2 separate regions of the Homo sapiens genome follow, and region 2 is linked to region 1. The links come from fine-mapping of genetic effects on gene expression. A gene starts in region 1. The other region holds a variant in brackets. All regions are shown on one strand. Distances are between the middles of the regions. Region 1 holds the start of PIEZO1 (piezo type mechanosensitive ion channel component 1 (Er blood group)). Region 2 holds the start of PIEZO1-AS1 (PIEZO1 antisense RNA 1).

What was found.
Region 2: its variant is fine-mapped to the expression of PIEZO1 in pancreas (GTEx, PIP 0.92).

Annotation. Positions count from the first base shown.
Region 1 is chr16:88,781,146-88,790,483 of GRCh38, forward strand. PIEZO1 (piezo type mechanosensitive ion channel component 1 (Er blood group)) reads right to left here and starts at 4,075. Exons shown (of 51, transcript NM_001142864.4): 1 at 3,756-4,075. The coding sequence starts at 3,819. RefSeq lists enhancers at 34-163, 204-343, 364-733, 744-823, 3,306-4,219 and 1 more and silencers at 2,904-3,223, 3,724-4,203, 4,244-4,573.
Region 2 is chr16:88,740,153-88,748,152 of GRCh38, forward strand. PIEZO1 (piezo type mechanosensitive ion channel component 1 (Er blood group)) reads right to left here. Exons shown (of 51, transcript NM_001142864.4): 3 at 2,148-2,270; 4 at 1,901-1,943; 5 at 1,326-1,464. HSALR1 (HSP90AB1 associated lncRNA 1) reads left to right here. Exons shown (of 3, transcript NR_103774.1): 3 at 1-1,273. PIEZO1-AS1 (PIEZO1 antisense RNA 1) reads left to right here and starts at 2,615. Exons shown (of 3, transcript NR_120387.1): 1 at 2,615-3,338; 2 at 3,440-4,192; 3 at 4,937-5,596. RefSeq lists an enhancer at 3,712-4,398 and a silencer at 5,416-5,475. The variant G/C (reference allele first, on the strand shown) is at 4,593.

The DNA.
Region 1 (9,338 bases):
ATGAGGCCGTCAAGGCCCACGGTGGTTCCCCTTCATCTTTGAGCACCGAAAGCAAATGCACTGCCGAGTCAGCACAGGAGAGACACCGCCCAGGAAGCTGCCTTGGGGCCAGGATCAGAGACTGTGCGCCCCCACCCACCCCCAGAGGAAACTTCCTCTCTGTGGGACCCTGGCAGCTGGGGCTGGAGCTCCCTGTGTCCTGGGCACCAGTGACCCGCTGCGGGACGAGCACCCGCTGTGACCCATCCTCAGCTCCTGGGCAGTCCCTGGCCCCTTCCCCAAACACGCACACATGTGCACACTCACACCTGCAGCCCTTGGTGCTGTGAGGCAGGCCCCAGGCTCTCCTGCTGACTCATCCAGCCTCCAGGCCCAGCATGGGGACAGAGTGCGCCCCTCTGTCACACCAGGGAGCTGATGCTCAGAAGGGGCCCCCAAGCCACAGAGGAAAGCAGCTCCCACCCTACTCTGCCACGGCCATGCTCTTCCCAGCACCCTCGGATGGGACAGGCCAGGGTTCTGTGCAGGTCCTGAGACCCGGGCACAGGCCTCCGAAGGGTGACTCTGCCATGCTCAGCTCAGAGGGTCTGCACTGCTGAGCAACTGTGAGCCGAGTGCCTGCTGTTCCCCAGCTTCTCGGCCGCCTCCCAGGAGTGGTGAGACCCTGATGGTGACAATGTTCTGAAAAAGGAGGCAGCATCCCTCATGCTAAATGGTGACACTTCTCAGTGACAATCAGCCTGAAGGAGGTGACGCCCAGCTTGCCGGCCGTGGGTGTGCCCCTAGGCTGTGCCACGAGGCACCCTGAAAAGCAGAAGCCATATTGTCAGCCCACGTGGGTGTCCCACAGTCAGTGACACGGTGGCTCCTCTCGCACCAGCTGGCTTTCCGCAGCCCTGTCTAGATTTCCCACTGATAGAACTGGAGGTGCGGTCCCATATTATCAGAATCACAAATGTCCTGCCCTTTTTTTTCCTTTTTCTTTTTTGAGACAGGGTCTGTCACCCAGGCTGGAGTGCAGTCATACAATCATGGCTCACTGTAGCCTCCAACTCCTGGACTCAAACAATCATCCCACCTTGGCCTCCTGAGTAGCTGGGACTACAGGTGCACTACCACCATGCCCAGCTAATTTTTAAATATTTTTCATAGAGATGGGGATCTCTACGTTGCCCAGGCTGCTCTCGAATGGCTACGCTCAAGCAATCCTCCCACCTTGGCCTCCCGAAGCTCTGGGATTACAGGTGTGAGCCATCGCGCCCAGCCCTGCCCTGACATCTCTCTAGAAGAGATGGGCCCTGATCCCCCAAGGCTCCAGCAACATTAGGTGAGACTGCTGAAGGAGGCCCCTGCTCCCTGTGGGTGGGGCAGCTCCCTGCCAGATTTTTGGGTAATGATCCTGCACTGGAGAGGGAGGGCGTGGGGGCCAGGGGCACCCCAGGATGACTCAAACCCTCACCAGGCACTGTCTGAGCCAGCGCAGGCACACACTGACTAATGCCTTCTGAAGGCCTCATTCATTTCCAAAACACGGTAGAACTGCTTCCAGCCAAAGCTCGCCAGAGAGGGAGGGGGCACTCCAAAGACAGCAAAGCCAGTGTCCCACCTCCGGCCAGGCCAGCTGAACCTGCACATCGCGGGTCCATCTGGAGCTGCCCACACCCCAGGGCCAGAGAGCCTGACTCAGGAGTCCCGGCCAGCAGGCAGGCAGGCAGGGTTCTTGGCCGGCTCCACTTCCATCTCCCCCAGGTGACTGAGAGAAAACACTGAGTGAGGCCCAGGCCCCACGCCCCATCCCCAGACACAGAATCAGTGTGGGGTATGGCCCGGGCTTCAGCATCTTTCAAATTAAGAGACTTTATTTGGGACCAGTTTTAGGTTTAAGGAAAGTACCATACAGACAGACAGTCAGTCATCACTATTCTTTAAAAGTTTCATAGAAGACTGACACGGGGCCTGGGTGAGCACCCCTGGGCTACCTCCCCATCCTCCCCAAGGAGGCCAAAAGCAAGAAGAACAGTGATCCCTCCCCCAGATCCCCCACGCGGATAGCAATCGAGAAGGCAGAACCCAGGCCCCCTGACCAATGCCCAGGGGGCAGCAAACCACATGTGCCACAGAATCGGGCTCAACACCTGTTTAGGTACAGCCCATGAACTCAGGAGGGCTTTTACATTTAATGGCTGGAAAAATACCAGAAGAAGAAGATTTTGTGACATGAAAATATTTACCATCTGGTCATTTAAAGAAAAACATTGCCAACTCTGCCCAAGGAGCAGCTGCCATCTGAGAGGGGGGGCATTCCCTGCAGGGAGGACACCCGCTCCCACTCAGACACAAGAGGAAATGGAACGATCAGTGTGAACGGGACGTTTCAGAAGCTTTCCTGTTTCCCTCTCTAAGGCCTGTCAGCTCTAGACTCTGCCTCTGTGCCAGGCTGTCCTGCTTGTTTTCAAGGCACAGGAAGGAACACAGCCGGGCCCTGTTTACGGCCCATCTGACCCTGCACTGGGAGCAGGTCCCAGGCTGCCCAGTCCACACAGGGCTGACCGCACTGAAGAGAGTTGCTCAAAACCTCTCCTCTCCAGCCTCAATGGTTTTCATTGATTCCTGTCTAGAAAATCTTCCCCAAGTTTCACCACCTTTCTGTGCGACCGATCAAAACGCAGTCTGTCTGGGAGCCTCAGGCAGGCGGCTCTAGATCCCCAAAGCTAGCGCTGGGCGAGCTCCCACCTGGAGCGAGGCAAGGGCTCCGAAAGGGCTTTTACAATCAAAAGGCCCCACCTGCCGTGTCCATGGCGGACTCCCAATGCAAACCGTCCCACTTGTCCGTGGGTTAATTCCATCCGACTGCTTCCCAGATCAATCACACGTGGGGAGCCCCCGGGCGGAGGGCGCGGACCCTGGGTCCCGGCTAGGCCAGGGTCGGGGAAGGGTAGGGGTGCCAGGCCGTGCAGCACCAAGCCACCCGGGTGTGCTTCGCGAAAGGGGCACCACTGCCCGGCAAGCAGGGAACACAGATGCCAGGACTGGGGACCCCTGCCCCGCCCTGACACCAGGCCACAGCCTCCGGGGGTGTCCCCTCCCCCAGACCAGGGCAGAGGCCGGCCCCCGCCCCTGCGAAACTGAGCCCAGTAGGGCAAGGGAGGACCAGGGAGGAACCCACACTATTTTTTTCCAAAGTGTGGGACCGCCTCAGTCCGGCAGAGGGGGGTGCAGCGGTGAGCGGGGCTGGGCCCTGGGCACGGACGTTCGTTGGGCTCGGGAAGCTCCAAATTAAACAGCTCCAGGCAGGAAGCCCGCCTTCTCCCAGATTGTCAGGAAGTCCTGATGCAACTTTGCGCTTTTTTTTTTAAACCCGAAAGAGAAAAAGAGATTCGTGCTCCCCCCACCACCGCCGCGGCCCTTCCCACCGGGGCAAACACCGCCTCGCCCGGCGGCCTCCTCTCCGCAGCGCCCCGGCGGAGACGCCAGCCGCGCTATGCCCGGCGCTCGCTCGACCGCCCCCGTGGGCACGCGGTGCCGTCTCCCCCAGCCGCCGCCGCCCTTCCAGCCCGGCCCTGGGACAGGAGCCCCGCCGCCGCCTGGCGCGCTCATGCTTCAGGAATGCGGGCGCCCGGGTCGCGCGTCCCTGGGAATTTCCGCGCCCGCTCGCCCGCAGCCCTCGCCCCGGCCGGCGTCGTCCGGTGTCCAGGCCGTGGGGAGCCGAGACGCAGCCCCCTCCCGTCGCCCCCAGGCGCCCGCCCCCCACTCACCAGCCAGCAGCGCGCAGGGCAGCAGCAGCCAGTACAGGACCGCGCCGAGCACGTGCGGCTCCATGGCTGGAGGGCCCAGGGCCCGGCCCAGACCGAGCGGACGCCGCGGCGCTATGGGGCGGTGCGGGGGCCCCGGGGCCGGCGCGCCATGGCTGACCCGCGGGGACCCGCGCGCCGCCTTCTCCTCTTCCTCCTTCTCCTTCGGCCGCCCCGCCGGTGCCGACGTCCCGGGCCCGCGCTCGCTCAGGCGACCGCCCTGCCCCTCGGCGGAGCGCAGCGCTCGGCTCACTGGGGCCGAGCTGGGCCGGACGGCGGCTCCCGCCCTCCTCCGCCCGCGGGCCTTTATAAGCTCGGCCCCCTCCCGCCCTCCCCGGCGTGCCCGCCTCCGCGCTTCCCCGACGGCCCGGCGCGCCCAGGCACCCCCTCCGCTGTCCCGCGCGGCCCGTCCCGCCTCCGGCCCGCCCTGGTGCGTTGGGGCCTGGAGACCCCCGACTGGCGCTGGCCCGGAGCGGACCCCTCCCCTCCCGCAGTCTTGGCCCCGCGGCTCCGAGCGTGCGCGGCGGTGGGCAGGGGCGCTTCTCGCTGGGTGGGCTGCGGCTGGGGCCCGGGCGCTACATAAGGGGTCCCGGGGCCTCTGGCTCCCCCAGGCAGCGCCCCACGCGCAACTGCACCCCGCGTGCCCGAGCGACTTTCGCTTTGCTCCCCGAGGCGCGAGCACGCAGCGCCCCCTGGGGACCGTGGGGAGGCTCGGAGTTCCCGCGGCGGCCGGGCCTAGTGGTCCCGGAGGGAGCACGCGGGATGCTCGGGTCGCAGCAGTGCCGCGATCCGCGTTGGTCTGACGGGGGCTCGGGGGCTGCTCCCAGCCACGCCGGCCACCGCGCGCGGCTTTGCCCGGGTCGCTCTGGCGTGAGACGGTGAGAGTGAGAGCCACGGCCTGTGCACCTGCTGCCGCGGCGCCCTGCCACGGAGAGGTAGGGTCTGAGTCCAGGGTGTTCGGGACCCTCACCCAGGCCACGTCAGTTTGGCCTTCGTCTGCCCTTGAGATGGGCACAGAAAGAGGGCAAAGGGCTCTACACCGTTTAATTGGGCTCAGTTCATGGCTCTCAAACTCAGCTGCGTAAGGCAGGGAGTGGGGCTGGGGGGACTGTGGCCACTGAGCCTCAAGGCACTGGCAACTCATGAGAGCCCAGCACAAGCCCACACCCTCCAGCTCAAAAAAAAAAAAAAAAAAAAAAGATGGCGGGGCAGTGGCTCAGGCCTGTAATCCCAGCACTTTGCGGGGCTGAGGCAAGGGGGTAGGGGGTCGGGGGATCACTTGACGTCAGGAGTTCGAGACCAGCCTGGCCAACATGGTGAAACCCCGTCTCTACTAAAAATACAAAAATTAGGCCGGGCGCGGTGGCTCACGCCTGTAATCCCAGCACTTTGGGAGGCCGAGGCGGGTGGATCACCAGGTCAGGAGATCGAGACCATCCTGGCTAACACGGTGAAAACCCATCTCTACTAAAAACATAAAAAATTAGCCGGGCGTGGTGGCGGGCTCCTGTAGTCCCAACTACTCGGGAGGCTGAGGCAGGAGAATGGCATCAACCCAGGAGGCGGAGCTTGCAGTGAGCCGAGATAGCGCCACTGCACTCCAGCCTGGGCGACAGAGCCAGACTCCGTCTCAATAAATAAATAAATAAATAAATAAATAAATAAATAAATATACAAAAATTAGCCGGGCGTGATGGCAGGCGCCTGTATTCCCAACTACTCAGGAGGCCGAGGCAGGAAAATCGCTTGAACCTGGGAGGCAGAGGTTGCCGTGAGCCGAGATCATGCCATTGCACTCCAGCCTGAGTGACAAGAACGAAACTCCATTAAAAAAAAAAAAACCACCCAGAAATGGAGATTTTCATGGGAAGTCTAGTGTTTAAAGGCTGATATAGGCCGGGTGCGGTGGCTCACGCCTGTAATCCCAGCACTTTTGGAGGCCGAGGCGGGTGGATCACGAGGTCAGCAGATGGAGACCATCCTGGCTAACACGGTGAAACCCCATCTCTACTAAAAATACAAAAAATTAGCCGGGCGCGGTGGCGGGCGCCTGTAGTCCCAGCTACTCGGAAGGCTGAGGCAGGAGAATGGCGTGAACCCGGGAGGCGGAGCTTGCAGTGAGCCGAGATCACCCCACTGCACTCCAGCCTGGGCAACAGAATGAGACTCCATCTCAAAGAAGAAAAAAAAAAAAGGCTGATTTACTTTCTCTGCAAGTCTCACCCTCTGGTCAGGCTTTGAAAAGTTGCTGCAGAGGTGGGGAAGTCTGGGAGCTTGCCCTGCAGATGGACTTGCAAAGGTAGAGGATGTATGTGTCCTAGAATTGTTCAAGCAGCAAAAAGCAGAAAAACTCTGCCCACAGAAGCTTGTCAAATAAATGATAGCGTGTCTCACAGTGGAGTGCTACACAGCAGGTAAAAAACAGAATCCGGCTAGGTGTTTTGTATCAACATGAAGCTAAGATACAATGGCACTCTGTAGCAGCGGTTAGAGAGAATCCCGCAATTGCTCTGTTATCAAGGAGGAACAATTGCTAAGTTACAGTGCTAACAATTGGGAAAAGCAAGCAGCTACACTCAGGGCCACGCTCACCCACTTGGGGTGGGAGGGAGACCTGGTCTTCACCTATACCCTTTGGTGCTGTTTTAATATTTTGCTTCATACATAATTCACTTATTCACAAAATAAAATTAGCAAAATGGAGACAAATACTCTGAAAAAGATCTCTGCTTGCCAGCCAGGGAGAGGTGGGGCGGGCAAGGGCAGGGGAGCCCACCTGTGCCCAGTTCACTGCCCGTTCAGGAATTTGGACCGTGTTCTAACTCAACCCCTGTTGCAGAAGAGGACGCTAAGGGCCAGAGCGGGATAACCATTTGCCAAAGGAATAGACCGGCCTTTGCACCCAGCTTTCCAGATTCCAAGTCCAAAGTCACTCCTGTCCCACTGACCCACAGCTGGGAGCCCTTTCTCAACTTGCTGTTGCTTTTTATTTTTGTCACTGTTTAAAACAGTGATTTATTTTTTATTTTATTGTATTTTCTTGAGACAAAGTCTGCCACTGTTGTCCAGGCTGGAGTGCAGTGGAGCAATCTCGGCTCACTGCACCCTCCGCCTCCTGAGTTCTAGTGATTCTCCTGCCTCAACCTCCCAAGTAGCTGGGATCACAGGCGTGTGCCACCACACCTGGCCAACTTTTGTATTTTTAGTAGAGATGGGATTTCAAAATGTTGGCCAGGTCTTGAACTCCTGACCTCAAATGATCCGCCTGCCTTGACCTCCCAAACTGCTGGGATTACAGGTGTGAGCCACCATGCCCGGCCAGTGACTTAGTCTTGGGAGAGCAACAATGGTCAGGTCCCCTTGGGAGAGAGGAAAAGCCAGGGCAAGAGGGGTCACAGGGACTTTAAGCTTTATCATGCAGGTTGTAACTTTTTCCCCAATGATAACATAGTCACCATTACTTGTCTATACTTAAAAATTAATTTCAGGCTGGGTGTGGTGGCTCACGTCTGTAATCCCAACACTTTGGGGGCCTAAGGCAGGAGAATGGCTTGTGGCCAGGAGTTGGAGACCAGCCTGGACAACACAGCAAGACCCCATCTATACAAAAAATAAAAATTAGCCAGGCATGCCAGGCAGGCATGGTGCCTCATGCCTGTAATCCCAGCACTTTGGGAGGCTGAGGCGGGTGGATCACAGGGTCAGGAGTTCGAGACCAGCCTGGCCAACATGGTGAAACCCTGTCTCTACTAAAATACAAAAATTAGCCAGGCGTGGCAGCAGGCACCTGTAATCCCAGCTACTCGGGAAGCTGAGGCAGAATCGCTTGAACCCGGGAGGCAGAGGTTGCAGTGAGCCAAGACCATGCCATTACACTCCAGCCTGGGTGACAGAGCGAGACTCCGCCTCAAAAAAAAAAAAAATTAGCCAGATGTGGTGGTGCCTGCCTGTGGTCCCGGCTACTTAGGAGGCTGAGGTGGGAGGATCTCTAGAGCCCAGGAGGTGGAGGCTGCAGTGAGTAGTGATGGCGCCACTGCACTCCGGCCTGGACAACAGGCCAAGACCCTGTCTCAAAAATAATAATAATTTTGGCCGGGCACTGTGGCTCACACCTGCAACACCAGCACTTTGGGAGGCTGAGGTGGGTGGATCACTTGAGGTCAGGGGTTCAAGACCAGCCTGGCCAACATGGTGAAACCCTGTCTCTACTAAAAATACAAAAATTAGCCGGGCATGGTAGCGCATGCCTGTGGTTCCAGCTACTCGGGAGGCTGAGGCGGGAGAATCGCTTGATCCCAGGAGGTGGAGATTGCAGTGAGCTGAGATCATGCCACTGCACTCCTGCCTGGGTGAAAGAGCAAGACCCTGTCTCAAAAAAAGTAATAAAATAAATAATAATTTCAAGAGGCAGCAACCCCAGAGTCTGTTAATGGAGTGTAGAAACAAAATGTGGTCTGTTCATACAATCTGATATTATTTGTCCATAAAAAGAAATGAAACTCTGATGTACGCTACAACAGGGATGAACTTGTGTGTGTGTGTGTGAGACAGGGTCCCGCTCTGTCACCCAGGCTACCAGGCTAGATTGCAGTGGTGCAATCATGGCTCCCTGTAACCTGGACCTCAGGCTCAAGGAAGCCTCCCACCTCAGCCTCCCAAGTAACTGGAACTACAGGCATGCACTGCCACACCCAGCCAATTTTTTTTCCCATAGAGATGGGGTCTTGCTATATTGCCCACGCTGGTCTCAAACTCCCAGGCTCAAGCGATCCTCCTGCCTTGGCCTCCCAAGGTGCTGGGATCACAGGTGTGAGCCACCGCGCCAGCACGGGGCTGGGGGACGTGGAGGGAAGGGAGCCAGGCACAGAAGGAAGACACCATGTGGCTCTGTGTACGTGAAATGTCTATGGAGACAGACAGCAGAGGGTGGTTACCAGGCCAGAGGGGGAAGTGGGCAGCTGTTGTTTAACAGTGGCAGAGTTTCTCTTTGGGGTGATAAAAAGGTTCTGGAAATAGTAGTGTTGACACAACATTGTAAATGTGCTTAATGCCTCCAAATTGGACACTTAAAAATGATTTAAAAGGTACATTTATATTATGTACTTTGACCATGATAGACAATTTTAAGAAATATGTACGTGGTTAAAACAATTTTCAGGCTGGGTGCAGTGGCTCGTGCCTGTAATCCCAGCACTTTGGGAGGCCGAGGTGGGAGGATCACCTGAGGTGGCGAGTTCGAGACCAGCCTGGCCAACATGGCAAAACCTCATCTCAAATAAAACTACAAAATTAGCTGGGCGTAGTGGCGCATGCCTGTAATCCCAGCTACTCGGGAGGCTGAGGCAGGAGAATTGCTTGAACCCAGGAGGCGGAGGTTGCAGTGAGTCGAGATCGTGCCATTGCACTCCAGCCTGGGTAACAAGAGTGAAACTCCATCTCAAAAACAAAAACAAACAAGAAACGATTTTCAAGCAGTGGACTCTATGCCTCCCTCGCAGCCAGGATCCCTCCCCAGAGGCAACCACAGTCTCTGTGTCTTCCACATAC
Region 2 (8,000 bases), 42 kb before region 1:
GCATGCCTGCAAACACGTGTGTGTGTTGCCCATATGTGGGAGTGAGGGTCGCCCGGGGGCCCTGCCAGGCCGGGTCATGGGGCTTCTAGATCTTTCGGAACGGTATCCTGCAGGTGCCTGGTGCCCCCAGCTCACTCTGAAGTCTGTCCACGCTGGCCGCCCAGGGCGCAGCTGCACACTCAGGCTCCCATCACACCAAGATGAAGATGACCAGAGTCCAGCCACCCAGCCCCTTCCCAGCAGCCAAACTCTAGGAAGCTCATGCCCCATGCCCCCATCAGCATGGAGGGGCTGACGAGGGAGGGGCGGGTCTCTTGGAGGACAGGCAGCAGCACAGTCCTCATGAGCGCTGGACCCCCTCAAATGCCCGGAAAAGCCACTTGACCTCCAGGTCCCCGTTCCCACTTCTGAAATGCGGGCACCAGCCTTGCCCCATGGGGTGGCGACAGGACAGGCAGGAGGGCAGGCCGCCTCTGCAGGCTGAGCAGGTGTACTCGACCTACCGTGTGGCTTGGGGAACCCCTTTCCCTCTCGGGACTCCTCTAGAAGTTGAGGCCCATGTGCGTGGCGAGCATCAGCTATCTGACGAGTGGGCACTGGGAGGGTGAGGTGGGAGGAGGCTGGGTGCCCGGGGCAGGGAGTTCGTGGGCCAGGACACCCAGGTGGCCATAAATCCTGGCTGAGCCTGGGGATGGCAAGTGTGGGCCCAGGCAGGGACGAGAGGGTCTGAGCAGTCAACGTTGGGTGTCGCAGGCCCCAGCTCATGCCCTGTCCGTGTGAGGGGGCCATAGCTCAGAGATTCCCGGGGCCGGACCTCCAAGTCTTGTAGCAGCTAAAGTTCACTCTGCCTCCCACTCCGAGGACAGAGGCCCTGCTTCAGGCCCGTCGCTCCTGGGGTCCAGGCCCCTGCTGGGGCTCTGGGCCGACAGCCTGTTTGCCTGTAAGTGCATGGGGCCTGCTGGGGCCGCCCCTTCTCAGCCCTTCTGCAGTGGCTCTCCAGCCAGACCCACTGCCCAGCACTGCAGGTTTCCACCACCGCGTGGCCCCAAATAATTCCCCTGTGAAGAGTTCCTAAGGGCACAGATGCCATGTCGGGGCGTGGAGGTTTCTGACTAGAGGCAGAGCCCGAGTAGAAACAGGTCTGAACGGATGGAACTGCAGGCTGGGCCCCGGGGTGGGATTTGGAACTTCCTCCTCTCTTTAACACCAACTTACAACCAAAACGTCTACATCTGTTTTAAAAAGATTAAAATAACCCTCAAAATGGCTGAGACCACAGCTCTCGAATGACCTCCCTGACACACGGGTGACGCAGCTGCCCTCACCAGCTCCCGTGGATGTGGGCTCTGCCGGGTGTTCCTTGCAAGGCGCCCGCAGATGCCGAGGCAGACAGAGGAGACCACCAAGATGCCCAGGTCAGGGGCCACCAGCCGGATGGCGTTGGGGATGTCCTTCAGGTCCAGCCTGCGGAGAGCAGGGAGCAGCCGCGGTCAGACCAAGAGGACAGGTGTGGGTGTGAGTGTGGATGGGTCTCCAGGTGCGGGTGGGAGTGTGGATGGGTCTCCAGGTGCGGGTGGGAGTGTGGATGGGTCTCCAGGTGCGGGTGGGAGTGTGGATGGGTCTCCAGGTGCGGGTGAGAGTGTGGATGGGTCTGCAGGTGCGGGTGGGAGTGTGGATGGGTCTCCAGGTGCGGGTGGGAGTGTGGATGGGTCTCCAGGTGCGGGTGAGAGTGTGGATGGGTCTCCAGGTGTGGGTGGGAGCGTGGATGGGTCTCCAGGTGTGGGTGGGAGTGTGGATGAGTCTCCAGGTCCCCCTCTGTCCCTCCTGGGTCCCCCCACTTCCTGGGGCCTGAAATCCCCAAGGGAGGCTTGCTGGTTGGGGGTGGGAGGAATGGTCTTACCTTGTGACCCCTATGTGTCGCGAGAGGGTCTCCCAGCGGCTGCCTGCAGAGAAAGACGGGGGAACCCAGGTCAGGCTCTGCCCAGCCAGCACCGTGGCCTGGTCATCCCTGGAGCGTTTCACCTGGACCATCCAGGCCAGACATAAATCAGGCTGAGTCAACCCCCCCAGGAGACTCGGGGTCACTGCAGGGCCCTCTCCCTGACCCCCAGGATGGCTATCCCTACCCCGCCCCCTCAGCGACTCACAGCTGGGTCCCAGGAGCTGGTCCAGGCGGGGCACAATATGCAGGCAGATCTGGAGGGCGAGATGGGCCACCAGGAAGAGCAGGCTGAGGCCCAGCAATGCCCGCAGGAGGCGGCCTGTGTGACCTGCGGCAGAGCGAGTGGGTGAGGCTGGTCCCGGGGACGGGGAGGGGCCGCAGCCCAGGCCGCTCAGCCGGACAATAGCCCCCAGCCCGGCCAGAGCCCAGAGGCCTGAGATGCAAACCCGCCATGGACTCAGGACCCCATCAGGCAGGCCGGCCAGCCCCACTCCCCACGCCTCCCGAGGGTCACTCTTGTCACAAGGAGCCGGGCATCCTCCTGGGGGTGGCAGCAGGATGGGCCTGGGGCCCACAGGCAGGAAAAGGCCTCCCAGGCTCAGAGGAAACCACCTGGGGTGTGCTCCCTCATCCAGCAAATACCTGTCACCGTTCAGTTGTGGAAGCAGAGGAAATAGACACAAGGAGAGGCAAGAAGCTCCACCTCACCCCAGTGGGGGCTGCAGGTGGATGGAGACCAGAGCATGCGGAGCGCCCCTGAGCAGCCGTGGCTGGGGTGGGAGCAGGGCCATGATGGCTCTGGAGAAAAGTGGGGCAGGCAGCTGCCTCCCTGGGGCTGAGGGGCTGCAAGGAGAAGTTGCATCCCGATGCATGGCCTATGCATGGTACCCAGTCCCCATGGCCACCCTGGCATTTCAGGCACCTGCTGTGCACCAGGTCAGGCCCCAGACCGGCATCCTCTCTCTCTCTGTGCACCCACACCTGGCAGGAAGCGGCAGCACCATCTGGTTGCCTGGCAGCCTTGTCCTGCTCCCAGCTGCCTGTGGCCCCACTGGACTCAGCCCCCCAGCAGGGAGGCCTTCGGCTGCAGGGCAGGGGCTGGGCGGGCGCACCCTGTGGCTGGGGGCACTCAGGAGCCCTGGCTTCACCTCTGCTCTCGGCGCACATGTGGACAGCTCACCCTTCAGCAGGGGTCCGGACCAAAGTCCTTGACCCACCGGGTTCTGAGTCCTGACAGGGCTGTGGACAGCTTCCCTTTCCACCCCGGCACGTGCTGGCAGGAGCTTCCGGGCCCTCACCCTGGGGCAGCAACTCCTGCACCACCAGCCACGCCCGGCCACGAGAAAGTGCAGAACAGCTCAGGCCCTTCTCACAACTTCCTGGAGCTCAGGGACAGGTAGCATCTGGGTCTGGGTCCAAGGTGGTGAATGTCACCACCACATCTGCCCTCTCTCGGCCTCGGGGCGCAAACTCAGGGCCTGTGTCCACTCTGTTCAGTTTTTTGAGCACAAATGGTGTTAGGTGACAGACTCGGGATTGGCCTTGGACACTCAGCCCCCTCTTTCTGGAGCAAAGACTCATGACCCACGTCCAAGTCACCCTGCACATCCCTAAGCCTGACCGTGAAGCAGCCCTCACGGATGCCCAGGACTCCCTGTCCGCACCACCAGGCAGCCGAGGCAGGTTTGGACCAGCTTCTCACACTCACACCTTCCTAGGGTTGCCCCAGGCCCTGACCTGCTGACCCTGCAGCTATGACCTCTGACCTGTGGAGGATGGGAGGGGTGAGCAGCAGGGAGAGTGGGAAGGAGGAATGGAAAACCGTCCAGGAAGGGAGGCTGCAGCCCCGACACGAACAGGAGCCACCACCAGGGGGTGCTGTGCAGGGCTCCCGGAGGACAGGACCTTCCAGGGCCTCCCTGCCCCGAACCCATAGGTGCCAGGCTTCTCACTGCTCACGACCTCCGTGCCGGGCTCATACCTGCCGCGCCAGCCCCTCTTCAGCAGAGCACAAGTCTGGCAGCAGGAGGGCACCAGCCAGGGGCCCCGCGCCCCCGCCTCTGTACAGCAGGGTCACCGTGGGGTGACATGAGAACACCGACCCAGGGAATGGGCTCCTGCCACACCTGCCTGGGAACCTGGGCTGTGAGTCCTGCTCGCTGCACCCTCTAGCCTGACGTTGAAGTAACCTCGCCAGCGGGGCCCTCTGTGGCACTGGGCACTCAGGGAGAGCACGTGGCATTGGAGAAGGTATTCTGAGTCCTACAGAGAGGGACCTGCGGGGCCTGCCCCACAGGCACGTGGGGCTCCTGCTGGGGCTGTCAAGGACCCCCGGGCACTGAGAGGACATCTGGGCCCTTGGGCAGCCAGGCTGACGGGTTCCCTGCACACACGATCCAGCAGCCCGGGAAGGAACTGCCTGACCAGAGACCCCTGGGCAGGGAGGGGCTCTCAGGCCACCTGGCTCCCGCCCACCCGCCTTGCCCTGCACGACAGTCCAGGATGTCCGTCTCTGGCTACATCTCGGATGTCACTGCTTCCCCATTGTCTTCCTCCCTCCCCTTTCCCTGCCTCCTTCCCGGTTCAGTTCTCGGGCCGGCCAGAGTGTCCTGGTCTGGCCATGTTAGAACAGCTGGGCCATGATCCCTCC[G/C]CAGGGTCGAAGGGGCCGCAGCTGGGCCTGGAGGCCACTCCTGGCCACGTGGCACGCCCGCTCCCTGCCTGGGCTGGATCAGACTAGGGAGCTGAGAGTCCGAGGGGCACCCCGGGAAGAGACGCTGCTGGAGATGGGAGGGGGCCGGAACGTGCAGAGGGATCGAGGCTCTGCTGACCTGCACGGGGCGGGGAGCGGGGAGGTGCACACAGAGGCCGAGGGGGCACCCTGACACCGGCCCTCTTCTCCGACGCAAACAGCATGACCTCAAGGGGTCGGGTGGCTTTCTCGTGCCTCCACCTGCAGCCCCTGTCCCCGCCCACCCCGTCACTCTCCCCCTGCAGGTCCCACCCCCAAATGCAAAGCTGGGAAAACCAGGCTGAGCCGGGGATCAGGCCACCTCCGCAGGGACCCACTGCTGCCTCTTCCAGGAGCCCAGGAGACCCAGTGGGTCTCCTGCCCCCGACTCCAACTCCCTCCTGGCAGGACACACCCAGCTCACAGTGGCCTTTCCATCCTGGGAAAGGGAGTGAGAGGAGGCTCAGGCCAGGGACCCGCCCAGCTCTGGCCGGCAACCGCCCTTCAGCCTTTCCTGAACCACTGTGTGGGCCCCAACCCATCCGCTGCCTGCCGGAGGGAGCCCATGGGGAATGGACTATTCTTGCCACCCCTATCCATGGCAGGGGAGGGGCTCAGCATGGCTCTTGCCCACCCAGAAGAAGGTGCAGGGGGCCTGGCGTGGTGGTTCACACCTTTGGGAGGCCGAGGTGGGTGGATCACCTCAGGTCAGGAGTTTGAGACCAGCCTGGCCAACATGGTGAAACCCTGTTTCTACTGAAAATACAAAAATTAGCCAGGCGTGGTGATGGGCACCTGTAATCTCAGCTACTCAGGAGGCTGAGGCAGGAGAATCACTTTCACTTAAACCCAGGAGGCGGAGGTTGCAGTGAGTTGAGATCGCGCCACTGCACTCCAGCCTGGGCAACAGAACAAGACTCCGTCTCAAAAAAAAAAAAAAAAAAAGGGGCCGGGGCTCCCCCTCCAGCTTGCAGGGCTCTCAGGAGGAAACAGGAAGGGGCGGGGAGGCCCCAGGGTATTGCAGACCGGATGGTTGACAGAGCATGGACCTCCCCCAGAGCCGGAGCCCTTGGACCCCGGCACGGCCTGCAAAGGCTGAGGGGCCCCACCACGGCAGCATCCTGATGCGTGGTCCATAGCCACCATCCCCACACCTGCCGGACAAGGGCTGGGCCTGATTGTTCTGTGGGGAGTGTGGAGTTGCCCTGAGTCTGATCCGTGGGGTGTGCATGGGAGCCCCCTGGAACCTGATCCATGGGGTGTGCATGGGACCAGCCAAGGGACCCAGGGTGCCTTGAGGCTGAGCCATGAGGCCCACCCAGCGACAGCTAGGGCTGAGCTGCGGGGTAGGGCCACGAGAGGGGCCTTTTGAGACAGAGGATGGAGACTACACAAGGCTGGCAGAGCCGGGGGACCAGTGAAGCTGGAGAGGGTGGCAGGGCCTCCCTGCACGGGGCATGGTAAGAGGTGGGGGGTGATCTCTCTCCAGACAGCAGGGTCAGTCTTGGAGGTGGGTTTTATCCTAAGGCAGGATGGGGCTTCTGAGTCCCTAAATGACAAGCAGGTCTCTGGGAGCCACCCCCTGTGGCTCTGCCTGCAGCCCTGCCTGGAGCACCAGGGTCTGTTCCCTCTGCCCCAGCCCCAGCCCCTACCCCTCTCCTCCCTGTTCAGTCTGAGCTCAACCTCCAGCCCCCCAAGGATCAGGCTGACGCCTACAAGGGGACCAAGGCTCAGATGGCGTCAGAGCTTCCACCAGGGCCACGCCAAGCCCAGCAGCTGCACAAATCATAAAGCCCCGGGCACTCGGCTCGGGCAAGCCTCACACTTTCCTCTCTCCCTCCCGGAAAACTGGGCAGCATCTCCGTCTCTGAAGGGCCTCTGACGAGGCTCAGGCAGGGAAGTCCTCCCGGGTCCTCTCCAAATCTTCCCACCCCAGCTCCTCCCCTGGCCTGGCTGGGCGCCTGCCTTCCCCCACTGCTGATTAAAGGAAAGTGTTTCCAATTGCGCCCTGGGCATGAAATATTTACGGAACAAACGGCGAAACGCCAGGGGCCTGGGAACAGACAGAACCGGCTCCACAGAGCAAAGGGGAGGCCCAGGATAGGGACCGGGAGTGGGGGTGCCCACCCACCCCAGCCATGCATCCTGGAGGGGTTTGGGCCTCGGGCCCCAGCGACTCCCAGCACTCGGCCGCACTGGGCCCCTCCCAAAATGCCTCTCTGCACCCCTGAATTCTACCCATGATCCAAGATCAGTGCCTGCGCTGGGCACAGTGACTCACACCTGTAATCTCAGCACTTTGGTAGGCTAAGGCAGGAGGATCGCTTGAGCCCAGGAGGTGGAGGCTGCAGTGAGCCATGATCATGCCACTGCTCTCCAGCCTGGGCAACCAAGCAAGACCCCCACTCGAAAAAAAAAAAAAAAGCCAAGCACGGTAGCTCATGCCTGTAGTCTCGGCCGAGGTGGGCAGATCACCTGAGGTCAGGAGTTCAAGACCAGCCTGGCCAACATGGTAAAACCCCTGTCTCTACAAAAACACAAAAATTAGCCAGGCATGATGGTGGGCGCCTGTAATCCCAGCTACTCGGGAGGCCGAGGCGGGAGAATCGCTTGAACCCGCGAGGCGGAGGTTGCAGTGAGCCCAGATCGTGCCATTGCACTCCAGCCTGGGTGACAGAGTGAGACTCCATCTCAAAAAAAATAAATAAAAAAGACCATTGCCCACCCCACAGCACCACGAGCTAGGAGGAGCCTCTGGGATGCTTCCAGCCAGATGTCGCGAGGCCGGAGAGCGACCTTCCACCTGCAGCTGGCAGAACGATGGACCCCAATGATGCCTGCACCCCAGTCCCCAGAATCTGTGAACGCAGAAGCTCACATGCAGAGGCGAGTCCAGGCAGCAGAGGAAATGGGGGCTGCCCAACAGCTGACCTTAAACCAGGGAAGTCGGCCTGGATTAGCCGGGGAGGCAGATGGGACGAAGCCACAGGGTTACCGCAGGGGAGAGGGAGCAGGAGAGACAGGGTGTGATCCTGACCCCACCCCACCGGCTCTGGAGATGGAGGGAGGGGCCCCAAGCCCAGGAAGGTAGGCACCTGGAGCAGCTGGAAGAGGAAGCAGATCCTCCCCAGAGTCCCCTGGAAAAACGCAGCCCGGTGGACACCTCGTAGCCATGGACAGGCCCCGACGCTGCCAGCCTGATGCGTCCAGCACCTCCCAGAAGGGCGGCACCCAAGAGCCTGTCTCCACAGTCACGCCCCCTGGTCCTGCTTGGCCTCCTCTCTGCCCTCTGCTGGGGAAGGTCTCTTGCTGCCTACACTTGCCCTCCCT